5 linked regions of the Homo sapiens genome follow. The protein of the gene in region 5 interacts with the protein of the main gene of each other region in a biochemical or structural test. Each region holds a gene or a part of one and is shown on either strand. Other genes may lie near its edges. The genes, in order: STOM, ECD, NUFIP1, TERT and RUVBL1.

Region 1 (3,519 bases), on a different chromosome or scaffold from region 5:
AATTTTCAAAAAATGCTATCGAGATTCAAAGGAAAGAAAAAGACATATCTAGCTAGAAAACTTGCTGAGAAGTATTTTATTTTATATCTATTCTACTATGCAGGATACTGTGCTAGACATTGAGAATATAAAAGTGAATAAGCAACATCCCTGCCCTCAGGGAGTTTTTACTCTAGTATGTTATGGGAGACTTGGACAGTATTTGAAAAGGCACCAAATGCTGTCAGATAAATAAGTATTTGTGGTCAGTCTGTCCTTGTTTGGAATTCATTTCACCCTGGAAACCTAGACCTGTGTCTGTCACAGAGCCTTGAAACTATCTTTTGCTATAAATAGGCATGGCTGGCATTAAGAGGACTTCCTCTGTAAAAATATCAGATTTCATTCTCACAACTCCAGCCATGCTTTTCAGTTTGGATACTGTCTTGAGAAAGTGCTCAACCACGAAAACATTCTTAATGAGGATTTTTTTTATTGAGGGGTGAATTTGGAACACGGGCTTTGGAGTAAGATGACCCATATTTGAGTCCCAGGTCTTCCATTGTGTGACTTTGGGAAAGTTAAATGTTGCTTTAGGTAACTCATTTGTAAAAGGGATTTAAAAATACCCTCACAGGGCTGTTGTAAGAGTTAAATGAGATACATGTCTAAAGTAACTTTAAAAAATGCCTGGGGTATACACAACCCCTCAAAACAGCCACTGTTGCTATGATCAGTCATGGTAATACTAGATAAAGCTTTCTTCACAAACAGTACTATGGCCCTGCTTTGAATATTCTCTCAATGAATATGTCTGTACCCCCTAAATTATAACTTAGAAACCTCCAGGATTACTTTAGATCATTTTATTTAAGTATACATGAAGACATTTACCTCACACTATAACACAGGATCAGAAAACTACCAAGTCACATACAACCCAAGTACTCACTATATTTCTGATTTTTCATCCTATGTTTTAGAGCACTTGACCTGGGTGCCAACATGTGTCTCTCTTCTCCCATGTTCCCAGCCTGAACACTCTGCTTATTTCTTGGCCTCCTATTTATTCCAAGCCCCATCTTACTGCCATTTTGCCCTTTCTTCTGAGCAGTAACATGTGCCTGGCATACCTTTTCTCCCCTCTGTCATTAAAATAGCTCCTGAAAATACAGCAGAAGCCTTCCAAGTGGTTGATAAGAAAACCTACTATATCCCTTGGCCTTCTCAGTCCCTATGTCCTCTACAGAAAGCAAAAGCAAACTAAAAATGAGGATGACACTTGATACAGAAAATAGGAACACAACACTGAGGTGATGGGAGTTCCCAGGATGATAGTGAAAGCAATTGCAGAATGATAGCCGTGCACACCAGATGAAGGAAGTCCACACAAGGCTCTGAGAGAGAATTCTTCCAGAAGATAAAATTGATAGTATACCTGACCTCTTTGAGAGGAAATTTAGGCAATTGATTTAAGGTTGGATCAATAAGTACGTTGAAAACCGAACAAAGGGAAAAAATAAGACAGTAATTCCAGAAAAAACAAAAATAGTACAGGAAGAGAAAACCAGTGATACCTCACTACTTGGCTTAGCTTTAAATTGCACTTACAAATTCATAATATAAAATCTCATATTGATCTAAATGAAGTTATGATGTAATTATATTGGAAAGCTGGGTATAAGTATGTGGTGGGGGTAACGGGGAGGAAAGAGAACTAAATCTTTTTCTGTAGTAGAAAGTTAATAGTCCTCAAAACTGAAAAAGCAAGAAGTAACAAAACAAGCATTTCCTTCCTTCCTTCCTTCCTTTTCTTTCTTTCTTTCTTTCCTCACTTTGTTGTCCAGGCTGGGGTACATCACAGCTCACTGCAGCCACGAACCCCCAGGCTCAAGCAATCCCCCTATTTCAGTCTCCTCAGTAGCTGGGACTACAGGTGTGTGCCACCACACACAGCTAATTTTTTTTAAGAAGTTTCAAGTAGAGATGGGAGTCTCACTAGGTTGCCCATGCTGGTCTCAAACTCCTGAGCTCAAGCAATCCTCCCATCTCGGCCTCCCAAAGTGCTGGGATTACAGGCGTGAGCCACCATGCCTGGCAGAAGCATATTATTATTATTATTTTTTTTTTTTTTAAAGTAGAGACAGAGTCTCCCTATGTTGCCCAAGCTAGTCTCAAACCCCTGGGCTCAAGGGATCCTCCCTCCTCAGCCTCCCAAAGTGCTGGGATTACAGGTGTGACCCCTGCACCCAGCTGCAAAGCGTATTATTTAGAAATATGGAGGTAGATATCAAAATGGTCAAAATAGCAAATGTTTTTGAGGAGGAGGAAATTGGAAGAGGTGAGCATGGGAATGCCCTTTTTTTGTACTAATCATATAGAATGGTTTGACTTTTTAAACTTTATGCAAGTGTAACTTCAAAAACACAAATGCATAACCACGAAGGCCAAAAAAGAAGGTGAAAGAGAATAGCTACAGGGAAGAAAAATAGGTTACACATTTTATTTATTTATTTATTTTTAAAAATATGATTTAAGGCCGGGCGCAGTGGCTTATGCCTGTAATCCCAGCACTTTGGAAGGCCATGGTGGGCAGATCACTTGACGTCAGGAGTTCGAGGCCAGCCTGGCCAACATGGTGAAACCCCATCTGTACTAAATACAAAAAGTAGCCGGGTGTGGTGGCAGGTGGCTGTAATCCCAGCTACTCAGGAGATTGAGACGGGAGAATCGCATGATCCCAGGAGGTGGAGGTTGCAGTGAGGTGAGACTGTGCTGCTGCACTCCAGCCTGGGCAACAGAGCAAGACTCTGTCTCAAAAAATAAATAAATAAATATATATATATATATCATTTAAAAATATGGTGTGTACACTAGGAAAATTTTCAAAGAATATACCAAAATACCTCTGAATTTAAAGTAATTTTTCCCTCCTTTGTTATACTTCTGTGAATTTTTTGCATTATTACCTTTGTAATCAGACGGAAAAGCTGTTGCATATTACAGGAACAGGAAACAATTAGAAATGTGAGAGGAAAGCCGTGTACAAAGATGTTCACTACAACACTGTTTATAGCACTAAGAAATCAAACAACCTGTGTAATCAGGAAGTGGGCAATAAATGATGCTGCATAAACCTAGTGAAATATTTTACAGGTGTAATTTTTAAAAAGAGGCTCTAAACAACTTTATACTCATATCATATGGTTTTCACCTTTATTCGTACTGTACTCCTAGCTAAAATGCTCTAATGCCTTTTCCCTCTTTCCTTTTTCTTTTCTTTTCTTTTCTTTTGACAGATTCTTCCTCTGTTGCCCAGGCTGGAGTGCAGTGGTACAATCTTGGCTCACTGCAACCTCCACCTCCTGGGTTCATGCAATTCTCCTGCCTCAGCCTTCCCAGTAGCTGGGATTACAGGCACTCACCACAACGCCTAGCTAATTTTTGTATTTTTAGTAGAGACGGGGTTTTATCATGTTGATCAGGCTGGTCTTGAACTCTTGACCTCAAGTGATCCACCTGTCTCGGCCTCCCAAAGTG
Region 2 (3,519 bases), on a different chromosome or scaffold from region 5:
GACTGGATCATGAGAAATACAAAAATCTGAACAGATCTATAACTAGTAAGGAGATTGAATCAATAATCCAAAAGCTCCTAACAAAGAAAAGCTGGCTTCACCGGGGAATTCTTCCAAACATTTAAAGAATTTGACACCAATCCTCCTCAAAATCTTCCAAAAAAATAAAAGGGAGGGAATTCCCAAATTCCTTCTGAGGCCAGCATTACCCTAATACCAAAGCCAGACAAAGACAATATGAGAAAGCTGTAGATCAATATCCCTGATGAGTATCAATGCAGAAATCCTTAACAAAATATCAGCAATCTGAATTCAACAACACATTAAATAGATTATTCACCACGACCAAGCGAGATTTATTCCTGGGATGCAAGGATGGTTCAACACACGAAAATCAATGTACAGTTAATATCCCACATTAACAGAATGAAGGTCAAACAAGTGCATTACAGAGTGTCTCAAGAGCTGCCATGGCAAACAATAGGTAGAAGAACAGCCCAACCAACTCTTCTTCTCCCCACCCCAGATCTCAAGTTTCTTCAACTAGAGAACTCCAATTAAAGTAACTATTTTTGTCTATATTAGACTTTGATTTAAATTTCATCTTGAAGCAATGGGAACTACTGAAGGATATTAAGCAGGAGAGTGACACAATCAAATTTGTGTTTTACAAACATAACCAGCAACAGTGTTAGGAACTAGAAAGACAGGAACCAGAGAGGTAAGTTAGGAGGCTGTTGTTGTTTTCCAGATGTAGAGATAAAGAGGGTCTACACTGAAGCCAAATAGATGTAGAGAAGGGGTCATATTTTAGAAGCATTCAGGATTTAGCATCTGACTGAACATGGTGAAGTGAGGAACTGATTATGATTTTGAATTACTGACTAGCTTGGATAACTGGGTGGATGGCAATGCCATTAAACAAGATAAGAAAACAGTAAAAATGGTTTTCTAGAGGATGGATAAAGGGTTGGTTTTAGATGTGCTACACCAATGTGACAGTGTTCTTGCCAATAAATATCATATGTATTTCAATGAATAAGAGTTCAATAAAATTAACAGTAAGATATGTAGCAATTGTTGCCAAAAGATAACAGATACGCACTAAACTGAGAGTATCACAGTGATGTATACTTGTGATGTATACATGGGGGGTATATCTTGTGATGGTATCACAAGATGCCAGGCTCCTGATCCCAAATAAGACCTCACATAAGTCACTGTGTAAGGAGAGACTTGGTCACCTACCCATGATTTATTTTCATAAAACTATAAGAAATGATAGAACTGTAATGTGACCAGTTCCCCACCAGACTACTTAAGGGTATATGTCTGCTGCTTAAACTTCAAAGGCCAGCTGGCAAGCCAAAGCCATCATGCCTAGCAGAGGAGCAGGTCCTGAGAACCCAAACATTGCAGGGCATAGCTGGGAACATACCAAGGAAAACAGTGTCATTGCATATACGCAGTAGGCAAAGAGCCAAAAAATTAGCTTACTAGCAACTTAAATATGGGAGGTGGGGTGGATTTCTAGAGCTGTCCTGATGCTGCCCAGGAGTGTCTTGTCTGTAAGTCCTAATAAACTCATCTACTTGCCAAGATAGACCTGTCCGAGTCATTCTTTGGTCTCTCCGCTCCCTCCTAGTTTAATCCTGGGTTTTTCTCATAACAGGACAGAGTGCCATATTTTGCCAGAGGTCAGATCTCAAGCACCAACAACACAGGGAAGCAATGAAGAAACCTCAAAATGCTTGTAAGTGGCAAATATTAGTCATAAAGCCCAATTATTTATCTTTATAAGCTGGGCAGAGCCACTCAGATCCTCACCAAAATGGCTATATGAAACAAGGCAGCCTACCAAACACATCACCAAAATAAGGAATCCTGAGTAACAGCAAAAGGAACCATGATTAAAGCCAGATGCCTGAAACTATTTAGTATAGATACTTAGATACATTATGGCATAGTGTAGTAACTAAAGTTCAAAAGAATAGCCATGAGTTTAATAATGTTTAGTATATGCTAATTCCTAAGGCAAATTTAGAAAGTTTTCATTAATATGATTTTTTTTAAAAAAAAGCTTTAAGGCTAACTGAATATAGACAAGTATTACTCATCTAAAAAGTTTAGTGTATTAATCTCTTCCTGGCAACACTGAATGAAGCGTGGACTATTACACATCACTGTTGTCAGGATAACATTAAAAGTCACACTAATCCAAACAAGTAAAAGAGCCTTACCTTTCCCAGGTTTATATTTAAGATTGAAAGGCTGATTCTGCCAGATGTAGGGGACCAGCATAGGTGCAAACCGAGTGATTATTCTCTCAATGTACTTCTGAAGAATCTCTTTATGTTTATCTGAGTCCCTTGACTCATCTGGTATCAGGAACAGGCAGTACTCCACTGTGTCTTCCATCGTAGCAAGCTTCATGGTTTCTTCCATTCTTCTTTGAAAACTATGTTTAAAGTTCCAAAATATAAACCACATAGAACAATGCAGAAGTAACATCTGAACTCTTTTAGATGGTTCTATGAACACTGTTTTCTAAAATTTAGTTAGGCCGGGCACAGTGGTTCATGCATGTAATCCTATCACTTTGGGAGGCCGAGACAGGCAGATCACTGGAGGTCAGGAGTTTGAGACCAGCCTGGCCAACATGGTGAAACCCCGTCTCTACTAAAAATACAAAATACTAAAAATACAAAAATTAGCTGGGTGTGGTGGCATGCACCTGTGATCCTAGCTACTTGGGAGGCTAAAGCAGGAGAATCACTTGAACCTAGGAGGCAGAGGTTGCAATGAGCCGAGATCATGCCACTGCACTCCAGCTTGGGTGACAGAGCAAGACTCCAACTAAAAAAAAAAATAAATAAAAATAAAAAATAAAAAAATAAAATTTAGTCACATACCATCACCATGGTTTTGGCCTTAACCATACACCACCTACAGTAATATTTATTTAATTTTTTTAAACTTTATTTATTTATTTGAGATGGAGTTTCACTCTTGTTGCCCAGGCTGGAGTGCAGCGGCATGATCACAGCTCATTGCAACCTCCACCTCTTGGGCTCAAGCCATCCTCCCACCTCAGCCTCCCAAGTAGCTGGGACCACAGGTGCATGCCACCATGCCCAGCTAACTTTTTTTGTATTTTTAGTAGAGGCAAGGTTTTGCCATATTGCCCAGGCTGGCCTAGAACTTCTGAGCTCAAGCAGTTCTTCCACCTTGGTCTCCCAAAGTGCTGGGGTTATAGGCATCTGGCCTAATATTATTTTTAATGACCCTTTACACTTAAAACTTTATCTTTAAAATTACGTTAAAAGGAAACCTTGATATAATACAGTGAATAGAAATCTAGTATCACATTCCCCAATTAGTAAGTATGTAAGAATAAAATCTTTACTTTTTATATTTTTCCTATTTTGGAAGTGAAGAATGAAATTTTTAATGTTTGCCCTTGTACTAGCAGTGGTATGTGTAATATATTTCGAGAAACACTGCACTAACACCTACTGT
Region 3 (3,519 bases), on a different chromosome or scaffold from region 5:
AGCTATGATCATGCCACTACACTCCAGTCTAGGCAACAGCACAAGACCCTGTCTCTGTCTCTTTTAAAAAAATTATTCTTTGTATAGAGATGGGGTCTCACTATGTTGCCCAGGCTGATCTCACACTCCTGGGCTCAACCGATCTGCCTGCCTCAGCCTCCAAAGTCCTGGGACTGCAAGCGTGAGCCACCATGCCCAGCTGACCCTGTCTCTTATTTTATTTTATTTTTTTTGGCGGGGGAGATGCAGTTTCGCTCTTGTTGGCCAGCCTAGAGTGCAGTGGCACAATCTTGGCTCACTGCAACCTCTGCTTCCCAGGTTCAAGCGATTCTCCTGCCTCAGCCTCCCGAGTAGCTGGGATTACAGGCATGTGCCACCATGCTCAGGTAATTTTCGTATTTTTTAGTAGAGACAGAGTTTCACCATGTTGGCCAGGCTGGTCTCGAACTCCTGACCTCAAGTGATCCACCTGCCTCGGCCTCCCAAAGTGCTGGGATTACAGGCGTGAGCCACCGCACCCAGCCCCCCGTCTCAAATAAAAAAAAAAAAAAAGTTGAGGGAGGGGCTGGCATGATGGCTCACATCTATAATTCCAACACTTTGGGAGGCCAAGGCGGGCAGACCACTTGAGCCCAAGAGTTTGAGATCAGCCTGAGCAGCCTGGCGAAACTCTGTCTCTACAAAAAATACAAAAATTAGCCAAGCTTGGTGGTATGTGCCTGTAGTCCCAGCTACTTGTGAGGCTGAGATGGGAGAATCACTTGAGCCCAGCAGGTTGAGGCTGCAGTGAGCCATATATGTGCCACTGCACTCCAGCCTGGGCCACAGAACAAGACCCTGTCTCAAAAAGCAACAATAATAAAGGATGAGTTTGACCTTCTCTCACTCTCTCTCACCATGTGATGCCTTTCTTGATGTCACCATGCAGCAAGAAGGTCCTCAACAGCCCCTTGATCTTGGACATAACCTCAAGAACTATGAGCCAAATAAATTTCTGTTCATTATATATTACCCAACAGGTCATACTCTGTTATGGCAGCACAATAGGGACTAAGACAGCTTCCTAGAGACCTTCCATGAGATTCTAATTTATTTTCTTACCCTACCCTTCCCCATACCTTTCACATACTCTGCTTCAGTCACACCAGAACCCTGCAATCTCCAGAACTTGCCTTGTACTGACACCTCTTTCTCTACCTAGGAAACATCTCTTCCCAAATTCTATACATCTCCTAAGACACTTCTTCCAAAAGCTTTTCCCAATTTCCTCTACATTCTGAAATCAGCTATTATATGCCTCTATCATCAGTCACACTGTATTTTGATTCATACTTATAACATATCTCATCTGACTCAGCCAAGTCCGTATTTCCAGCATCTGCCATACAATAAACACTAACTGTTTGGGCCAGGTGTGATGGCTCATTCCTGTATTCCCAGTGCTTTGGGAGGCCAAGGCAAGCAGATCACTTGAGGTCAGGAGCTCGAGACCAGCCTGGCCAACATGGTGAAACCCAGTCTCTACCAAAAATACAAAAAATTAGCCAGGTGTGGTAGTGCGTGCCTGTAGTCCCAGCTACTCAGGAGGCTGAGGCAGAAGGATCCCTTGAACCCAGGAGGTGGAGGCTGCAGTGAGCCGAGATGGTGCCACTGTACTCTAGCCTGGGTGACAGCAAGAGACTCTATTTAAAAAAATAAATAAAATAAAATAAAAATAAAACACTAATTGTTCAGATTCAGTTTAATGCAGAATTGAATTTTTTTTTATTATTATACTTTAAGTTTTAGGGTACGTGTGCACAATGTGCAGGTTAGTTACATATGTATACATGTGCCATACTGGTGTGCTGCACCCATTAACTCGTCATTTAGCATTAGGTATATCTCCTAATGCTATACCTCCCCGTTCCCCCCACCCCACAACAGTCCCCAGAGTGTGATGTTCTCCTTCCTGTGTCCATGTGTTCTCATTGTTCAATTCCCATCTATGAGAGAGAACATGTGGTGTTTGGTTTTCTGTCCTTGCAATAGTTTACTGAGAATGATGACTTCCAATTTCATCCATGTCCCTACAAAGGATATGAACTCATCATTTTTTATGGAATGCAGAATTGAATTTTCTGCAAAGTTGGAGAATGGTTTTAAATTAACACTCTTGTAGCTTGAAATATGATCTATATGGTGTCAACACCCAAATTTATAGCTCCAGCCACAAATCTCCCCTGAAAGTAGACTAATAGCTAAAAGCCTATTCAATATCTCTACCTGACACAAATATATTCCAACTTTAATTCCTGGACTTCCTTCCAAATCTGCTCCATCCACATTCTTACCTATCTCAGTTAATAGCAACTCCATCCTTCCAATTGTTTGGCAAAAAAACTTTAAATTATCCTTCTCTCCTCTTTATCTTGCATCCCATATATCCTATCTTTCAGTAAATCATGCAGTCCCCACCTTTAAGGTATAAAAGCACATCTCATTTCACTGCACTTCGTTTTACACAGCTTTTTGCAAGCTAAGGGTCTGCGGCAACCCTACATCAAGCAGGTCTATCAGCACCATTTTTCCAACAACAATGTGCTGTCTTTGTGTCACATTTTGGTGATTCTCGAAATATTTCAAACTTTTTCATTTTTATTACGTCTGTTATACTGATCTGTGATCAGTGATCTTTGATGCTACTACTGTAATTGTTTTGAGACACCATGAATCGTGGCCATATAAGATGGTGAACTTTATAAATGCTGTGTATGTTCTAACTGCTCTACCAACCGGTGGTTCTCCTCTCCCTCTCCTCAGGCCTCCCTATCCTCTGAGACGCAATATTCAAAAGTAGGCCAATTAATAACCCTATCATGGTCTCTAAGTGTTCAAGCAAAAGGAAGAGTCACATGTCTCTCATTTTAAATCGAAAGCCAGAAATGATTAAGCTTAGTGAGGAAGACACGTTGAAAGCTGATACAAGCCAAAAGCCAGGCCTCTTGTGCCAAACGGCTAGCCAAGTTGTGAATGCAACTACTGAGAAAGGGTCTCACTGTCAGCCAGGCTGGAATATAAAGGTGCAGTCATAGCTCATTGCAGCCTCAAACTCCTGGGCTCAAGGGATCCTCCTGCTCTGCCCTCCTGAAGTGCTGGGATTACAGTCGTGAGCCACCGTGTCTGGATGAAAAGTTCTTGAAAGAAATCCACAGTGATTCATAGATAGTGATTCCTCTAATGGATCTGAGCAAAGTAGATTAAAAACCTTCTAGAAAGGAGGTTTTGATTCACTATTCAAGATACCATTAAGAACATTCATGATTTATGGAAGGAGGTCAAAAGATCAACATTAACAGGAGTTTGAAAGAAGAAATTCCAACCCTCATAGACGATTTTGAGGAATTCAAGACTTCAGTGGAGGAAGTCACCTCAGATGTAGTAGAAACTGCAAGAGAACTACAATTAGAAGTGGAGGGGCCAGGCGCAGTGGCTCACGCCTATAATCCCAACACTTTGGGAGGCTGAGGTGGGTGGATC
Region 4 (3,519 bases), on a different chromosome or scaffold from region 5:
AATCCAGCTTGAATCTGTCACAATCTCACACTCTCATCAGCCGAACATTGCAGACAAAATCTCACAGCCATTCAAATGCAGCCACCTAGAAGTTAGCTCATGGTGGAACTCTCCTATCCCCAGGTGCTCCCTGCACAGGTGCTCCCTGCAGTGAGTCGCCAAGTGGGTGGGATTTTATCCTCTCATGACCTAAATCCAATAGATTGAAGATTCATACAGAACAGCATGAATTAAAAGAGAATCGGGGGCTGGGCACGGTGGCTTAGCCTGTAAACCCAGCACTTTGGGAGGCCAAGGTGGGTGGATCACCTGAGGTCATGAGTTCGAGACCAGCCTGGCCAACATGGTGAAACCCCGTCTCTCCTAAAAGTACAAAAATTAGCCAGGCGTGGTGGCAGGTGCCTGTAATCCCAGCTACTTAGGAGGCTGAGGCTGGTGAATCGCTTAAACCCAGGAGGTGGAGGTTGCAGTGAGCCAAGATTATGCCACTGCACTCCAGCCTGGGCAACAGAGTGAGACTCCATCTCAAAAAAGAAAAAAAAAAGAGAGAGAGAATCAGACCCACATCCCAGGGAAAGGCAAGGAGGCTAGTGGTAGTGTTTCCATCTAATTTAAATCCCTTCTGCTTTACAAACCCTAGAGACCACTTGGCACAAACTCCTGATTTTACAAGTAAGAGAACGTGAGCTCCAGGCAGTCAGAGCCTTGCACAGAATCCACTTGGACCAGGCCTGTGACGGGGCCCCTGGCTCCCAGCCCAGAGCTGCACAGCCAGGGAAGCACAGGCAAGTGGAGACAGGCGCATGCTGAGGCCGGGCTGGTGTTCCAGGACTTCGAGAAGCAGAGGCCTGGCGTGGGGATACAGTACCTGATTCCAATGCTTTGCAACTTGCTCCAGACACTCTTCCGGTAGAAAAAGAGCCTGTTCTTTTGAAACGTGGTCTCCGTGACATAAAAGAAAGACCTGAGCAGCTCGACGACGTACACACTCATCAGCCAGTGCAGGAACTTGGCCAGGATCTCCTCACGCAGACGGTGCTCTGCGGCCGGAACACAGCCAACCCCTTAAACGAGAAGGACATGCCACATCCAGATCACCGAGGGCCTGGTGACCTCACCCCGGACCTGCACCATCCGGACACCGCACATCCAGCTCACCAAGGGCCTGGCGACCTCACCCCAGACCTGCACCATCCGGACACGGCACATCCAGCCCACCAAGGGCCTGGCGACCTCACCCTGGACCTGCACCATTCGGACACGGGGACACCGCATATCCAGCTCACCGAGGGCCTGGCGAACTCACCCCGGACCTGCAGCATCCAGACACCACACATCCAGCTCACCGCAGGGCCTGGCGAACTCACCCCGGACCTGCACCATCCAGACAACACACATACAGCCCACCGCAGGGCCTGGCGACCTCACTCCGGACCTGCACCATCCGTACACTGCACATCCAGCTCACCGCAGGGCCTGGCGACCTCACGCCAGACCTGCACCATCCGGATACAGCACATCCAGCTCACCGCAGGGCCTGGCGACCTCACCCCGGACCTGCACCATCCGGATACAGCACATCCAGCTCACAGCAGGGCCTGGCGACCTCACCCCAGACCTGCACCATCCGGACACCACACATCCAGCTAACCGCAGGGCCTGGTGACCTCACCCCGGACCTGCACCATCCGACACCGCATATCCAGCTAACCGCAGGGCCTGGCGACCTCACGCCAGACCTGCACCATCCGGATACAGCACATCCAGCTCACTGCAGGGCCTGGCGACCTCACCCCGGACCTGCACCATCTGGATACAGCACATCCAGCTCACAGCAGGGCCTGGCGACCTCACCCCGGACCTGCACCATCCAGACACCGCACATCCAGCTAACCGCAGGGCCTGGTGACCTCACCCCGGACCTGCACCATCCGGACACCGCATATCCAGCTAACCGCAGGGCCTGGCGACCTCACCCCGGACCTGCACCATCCGGACACCCCACATCCAGCTCACCGAAGGCCTTGGCTACCTCACCCCGGACCTGCACCATCCAGACACCGCACATCCAGCTCACAGCAGGGCCTGGCGACCTCACGCCGGACCTGCACCATCCGGACACCACACATCCAGCCCACCAAGGGCCTGGCGACCTCACCCCAGACATGCACCATGCAGACACCGCACATCCAGCTCACCAAAGGCCTGGCGACCTCACCCCAGACCTGCACCATCCGGACACGGCACATCCAGCCCACCAAGGGCCTAGCGACCTCACCCTGGACCTGCACCATCCGGACACGGGGACACCGCACATCCAGCTCACCGAGGGCCTGGCGAACTCACCCCGGACCTGCAGCAACCGGACACTGCACAACCAGCTCACCGCAGGGCCTGGTGACCTCACCCCAGACCTGCACCATCCGGATACAGCACATCCAGCTCACAGCAGGGCCTGGCGACCTCACCCCGGACCTGCACCATCCGGATACAGCACATCCAGCTCACAGCAGGGCCTGGCAACCTCACCCCGGACCTGCATCATCCGGACTCCATACCTCCAGCTCACCGAGGGCCTGGCGACCACACCCCAGACCTGCACCATCCAGACGCCGCACATCCAGCTCACAGCAGGGCCTGGCGACCTCACCCCGGACCTGCATCATCCGGACTCCATACCTCCAGCTCACCGAGGGCCTGGCGACCACACCCCAGACCTGCACCATCCAGACGCCGCACATCCAGCTCACAGCAGGGCCTGGCGACCTCACCCCGGACCTGCATCATCCGGACTCCATACCTCCAGCTCACCGAGGGCCTGGAGACCTCACCCCTGACCTGCACCATCCGGACACCGCATATCCAGCTCACAGCAGGGTCTGGCGACCTCACCCCGGACCGGCACCATCCGGACTCCATACATCCAGCTCACCGAGGGCCTGGCGACCTCACTCCAGACCTGCACCATCCAGACACCGCACATCCAGCTCACCGCAGGGTCTGGCGACCTCACCCCGGACCTGCACCATCTGGACACTGCACATCCAGCTCACCGAGGGCCTGGCGACCTCACTCCAGACCTGCACCATCCAGACACCACACATCCAGCTCACAGCAGGGCCTGGCGACCTCACCCCAGACCTGCACCATCCAGACACCACACATCCAGCTCACAGCAGGGCCTGGTGACCTCACACCGGACCTGCAGCATCCGGACACCCCACATCCAACTCACAGCAGGGCCTGGCAACCTCACCCCAGACCTGCACCATCCGGACACCGCATATCCAGCTCACCGCACGGTCTGGCACCGTCTGGCGACCTCACTCCAGACCTGCACCATCCAGACACCGCACACCCAGCTCACCGCAGGGCCTGGTGACCTCACCCCAGACCTGCACCATCCAGACACCACACATCCAGCTCACAGCAGGGCCTGGCGACCTCACCCCGGACCTGCATCATCCGGACTCCATACCTCCAGCTCACCGAGGGCCTGGAGACCTCACCCCTGACCTG
Region 5 (3,519 bases):
GTTACCACTGGACCCAGCAATTCCACTCCTAGGTACATAACCGAAAGAAATAAAAACCATGTCCACTTAAAAATGTTGTACATAGGCCAGGTGTGGTAGCTCACAGTAATCCTAGCAGTTTGGGAGGCTGAGGCAGGAGGATCCTTGGAGCCCAGGAGTTCAAGACCAGCCTGGTCAACAAAGTGAGACCCCATCTCTACTTTAAAAAAGAAAAAGAAAAAGAAAGAAAGAAAAAAAAAGTTGTACACAAATGTTCAGAGCACCATTATTCATAATAACCCAACAACCCAATGTCCATCAACTAATGAATGGTTAAATAAGATACACTATTAAATATTCCATATAATAGAATACTATTCAGCTGGAAAAAGAAATAAGTACTACGCATGCTACAGCATCATGCTAAGTGAAAGAAGCCAGTCACAAAAGACCAGATTATATGGTGCTATTTATACAAAATTTCCAGAAAAAGCAAATCTATAGAGACAAAATTGATTAATGGTTGCCAGTGGATGGGGGTAAGGGTGCAGAAGGGGACGATGACTATTGATGGGTATAGTTTCTTTTTGGGGTGATGAAAATGTTCTAAAATTGACCGTGGTGATGGTTGCACAACTCTGTGAATACACTAGAAATCACAAAAAAAAACTGTATTTTATATGAATTATGTCTCCATAAAGTTGGTTTTTTTTTTTGTTGGAACACTATCTGCCACAGGGTTACACTGAGCAGAGTCCATACTGTTTCTTAAGTCTTGATGTTTTGGTGCAACAAAGTGACTTTCAGTGAGAAACTCCTACAAGAACTCCTAATCCCAGGGAGCTATACCTCAATATGAAGAGAAAATCTCCCAGTTTTCAAGCTGGGATCAGTGCTGGGCTCTCATCTAACAGTTCAGGATCCTGAGCCTGGAAGGAAAGGGACTTCTTATGGTGGCAAGTTAGGGAGGAGCCAGGCAAGAAGGCAACAGAGCTTTGCCTCCCTGTCATCCATGGATGGACCCTTCCCAGAAGGAGCCTGGAGCATCAAGAGGACCAGGGACAGGTGCTTCTTCTAGAACGGCTCCCACATCAGCTGTCCACAGGGAGAGGTGACCTAAAGGACTTGGGGGCTGCTTGTCAAGGTCAGGAGGGGCTATGAAGAGGCTTCATGCCTTGCTGGGTTCTCAGAGATCCCTGAGGCCAAGCCATGTCCACAGAGCAGACCAGGCAGGGGCATGAAATCAGCTTCCAAGAGGGCAATACTCTAGGGCTGGCCTGGGTGATAACTTTGCACTCACTTTTTCTACTCTTCACATAATTCTGCAAAAAAGGTGCTGATATTCCCATTTCCTGATGAGGATGGTAAGATTCAGAGAGGTCAAGGAACTCGCCTGGGTCATGAGCTTCCACGTGACTCCAATGCCTGTAATTTTTCCATGTGGGAACCAGGCTTGTGCTGAAATGCATGCTCCATAAAACACAATGGCCATCAGAGAGTGGGCTCACTTCTGAGGCTCAATCCACAAGGGTCATTTACACAGGGAGGGGTGAGCGGCAAGAAGCCGAGAGGGAGCGTACACTACCTGGGAAAGAACACTCCTAGGAGGCTGCATTTTCACGGCAATCTGTTGTCAGCATCCAACAGTTCCCCACTGCCACCTCCAGGCAGCACCCCGTCAAAGCTCCATCCCCGCTCACAGCCCAGGGTCCACTGGGAAGCGGTGTGGGAGAGCAGTGAGAGCATGGAGTTTGGACCCAGACGTTCCTCTGGGCTCAGGTTCCAGTGGCAACACTTTCTAGCCTATGGCCTGGGCAGGTAACCTCCCATTTGAGTCTGGAGATAACCTCAACTGCTCACAGGGTTGTCAGGGTGTCCTGGGAGGACATGAGATGGCCCATGTAGAGTGCTCTGTATAGTTTCTGACACACAGGAAGCCCTCAGTTAGTCACCTCCCTTCCCCCTCTCTTTCCTTCGGAGCTCTAGAGATCAGATGTGGTTCTGGGGGGTAAGGAAGCCCTGTAGTTCCCCTCTAGGGGTGGAGTCTGTGGGAAGCATATCAGATGGCTATTATTGTTGGCTATTACTTTTTTCATTACCATGTTGACATTATTATCACCACTACAACAAATTTCCTACTAGAACATAGTGCCAAAATTCTCTTCCAAAGCAAACAACCGAATCTGCGTTACCTGAGCCGACCTGCCTAAAAATCCATGTTCTGAGTGTCTTCCTTCCACTTGAGTAACTACAGTCTAGCAAGGAGTCTCCACAACCTCTAGCAGCCCTTGATCAAATCAGCCCAGATGGGGCTGGGGCCAAATCTCCCGGGTCTCAGGCTGACCAGAGCTTTGTCTCCACTGAGCAGGTTCTGAGATCAAGGCCACCTTTCTGTGCACCTTAGTCCTGAGTGGGATGGGACTGAGAGACCTTACTTCTGAGACGAGAGATGCCAGGCTCTGCAGGTATGGGCTGGGCTGGGTTCCCTACTGTGGAGGGAGGGAAGCCTATTAGCAGAGCTCCCCAGCAGGGGGCACCATCTGTCCAAGGCTGAGCCCTTTCACCAACTGCACTGTCAGGCTTCAGCCTGGCCTAGCCAAGGCTAAGCAAGTCCAGACAGCCACAGGCATGCCAGGCATACCAGCCATAAGGCCCACATGCATCTGTCTCCAGAAGCTGCCCAAGTAGCCATGCTGGATCTGGCACACACTTTCTCTCCAAGACTTAGGAAGCACTTATGACAGTGGTCTTGTCTAGAGAGCATCACGGACGGGGATTCAGAGTAGCTACAAGATGCTGCCACATGGACTTGAATCACGCATTCGATTCCTAATTGCAAGTGAAAGAAACCGCCTGAGGGGGAAGGGCTGTTGCTATACTGCAGTGCTCACAGCACTACAGAACCCCCATTGTGGGGCTTACCCAGAGCCAGCAACACCAGAGTTTGCATGTTTTGTTTTTTTTTAATTATTTTTAGAGATGAGGTCTCACTGTTGTCCAGGTGGGAGTGCGATAGCTATTCACAGGTGCAATCATTGCACACTACAACCTTAAACTCCTAGCCTCAAGCAATCTTCCCGCCTCAGCCTCCCAGAGAGTACACTACAGGTGCATACCACTGTGCCCAGCTTGGACAGTCTTAATAATAAAGCTTCTCTATTAAAAGCAAACTAAAATCTTAGATAGGGCCCACCATCATTCAGAGCTGAGTTAGGCAAATCAGCAGTTTTTATTTCAAACTCAGTTTGGCTCCAGCTGTGTCCTGAGATACTCATGGGCCACAGGGTGTCTTTCTAACTCCCACTGCCTCCACTGCCCTGAGCATGCAGCCTCAGGGACTTTGTCCCCACACTACTCTATTGCAGGCTTGAAAACAGGCCCCTCATCACCCACCTTTGTGCCCCCAGCACTGCAGAGACCAGGCACTAATGTTTAAACAAGATCACAGAAAACCAAAAGAGCAATAAAACTACCAGGTACTGGGAATACTGACACTGGGCTTGAGAGATGGGAAGATGGGGTGTTCTCCAGGACCACGAG

The links.
Region 1: the proteins of RUVBL1 (region 5) and STOM form a complex in vitro, tested with the Homo sapiens proteins (one study listed by BioGRID).
Region 2: the proteins of RUVBL1 (region 5) and ECD form a complex in vitro, tested with the Homo sapiens proteins (one study listed by BioGRID).
Region 3: the proteins of RUVBL1 (region 5) and NUFIP1 form a complex in vitro, tested with the Homo sapiens proteins (one study listed by BioGRID).
Region 4: the proteins of RUVBL1 (region 5) and TERT form a complex in vitro, tested with the Homo sapiens proteins (one study listed by BioGRID and IntAct).

Annotation. Positions count from the first base shown.
Region 1 is NC_000009.12:121,356,735-121,360,253, reverse strand, and holds part of STOM (stomatin), read left to right. Parts: intron 1-3,519. UniProt on the Homo sapiens protein: Regulates ion channel activity and transmembrane ion transport. Regulates ASIC2 and ASIC3 channel activity.
Region 2 is NC_000010.11:73,161,493-73,165,011, forward strand, and holds part of ECD (protein ecdysoneless homolog), read right to left. Parts: intron 2,459-3,519; 5' UTR 2,446-2,458; coding exon 2,241-2,445; intron 1-2,240. UniProt on the Homo sapiens protein: Regulator of p53/TP53 stability and function. Inhibits MDM2-mediated degradation of p53/TP53 possibly by cooperating in part with TXNIP. May be involved transcriptional regulation. In vitro has intrinsic transactivation activity enhanced by EP300.
Region 3 is NC_000013.11:44,982,953-44,986,471, forward strand, and holds part of NUFIP1 (FMR1-interacting protein NUFIP1), read right to left. Parts: intron 1-3,519. UniProt on the Homo sapiens protein: Binds RNA.
Region 4 is NC_000005.10:1,281,561-1,285,079, forward strand, and holds part of TERT (telomerase reverse transcriptase), read right to left. Parts: intron 1,065-3,519; coding exon 869-1,064; intron 1-868. UniProt on the Homo sapiens protein: Telomerase is a ribonucleoprotein enzyme essential for the replication of chromosome termini in most eukaryotes. Active in progenitor and cancer cells. Inactive, or very low activity, in normal somatic cells.
Region 5 is NC_000003.12:128,092,811-128,096,329, forward strand, and holds part of RUVBL1 (ruvB-like 1), read right to left. Parts: intron 1-3,519. UniProt on the Homo sapiens protein: Possesses single-stranded DNA-stimulated ATPase and ATP-dependent DNA helicase (3' to 5') activity; hexamerization is thought to be critical for ATP hydrolysis and adjacent subunits in the ring-like structure contribute to the ATPase activity.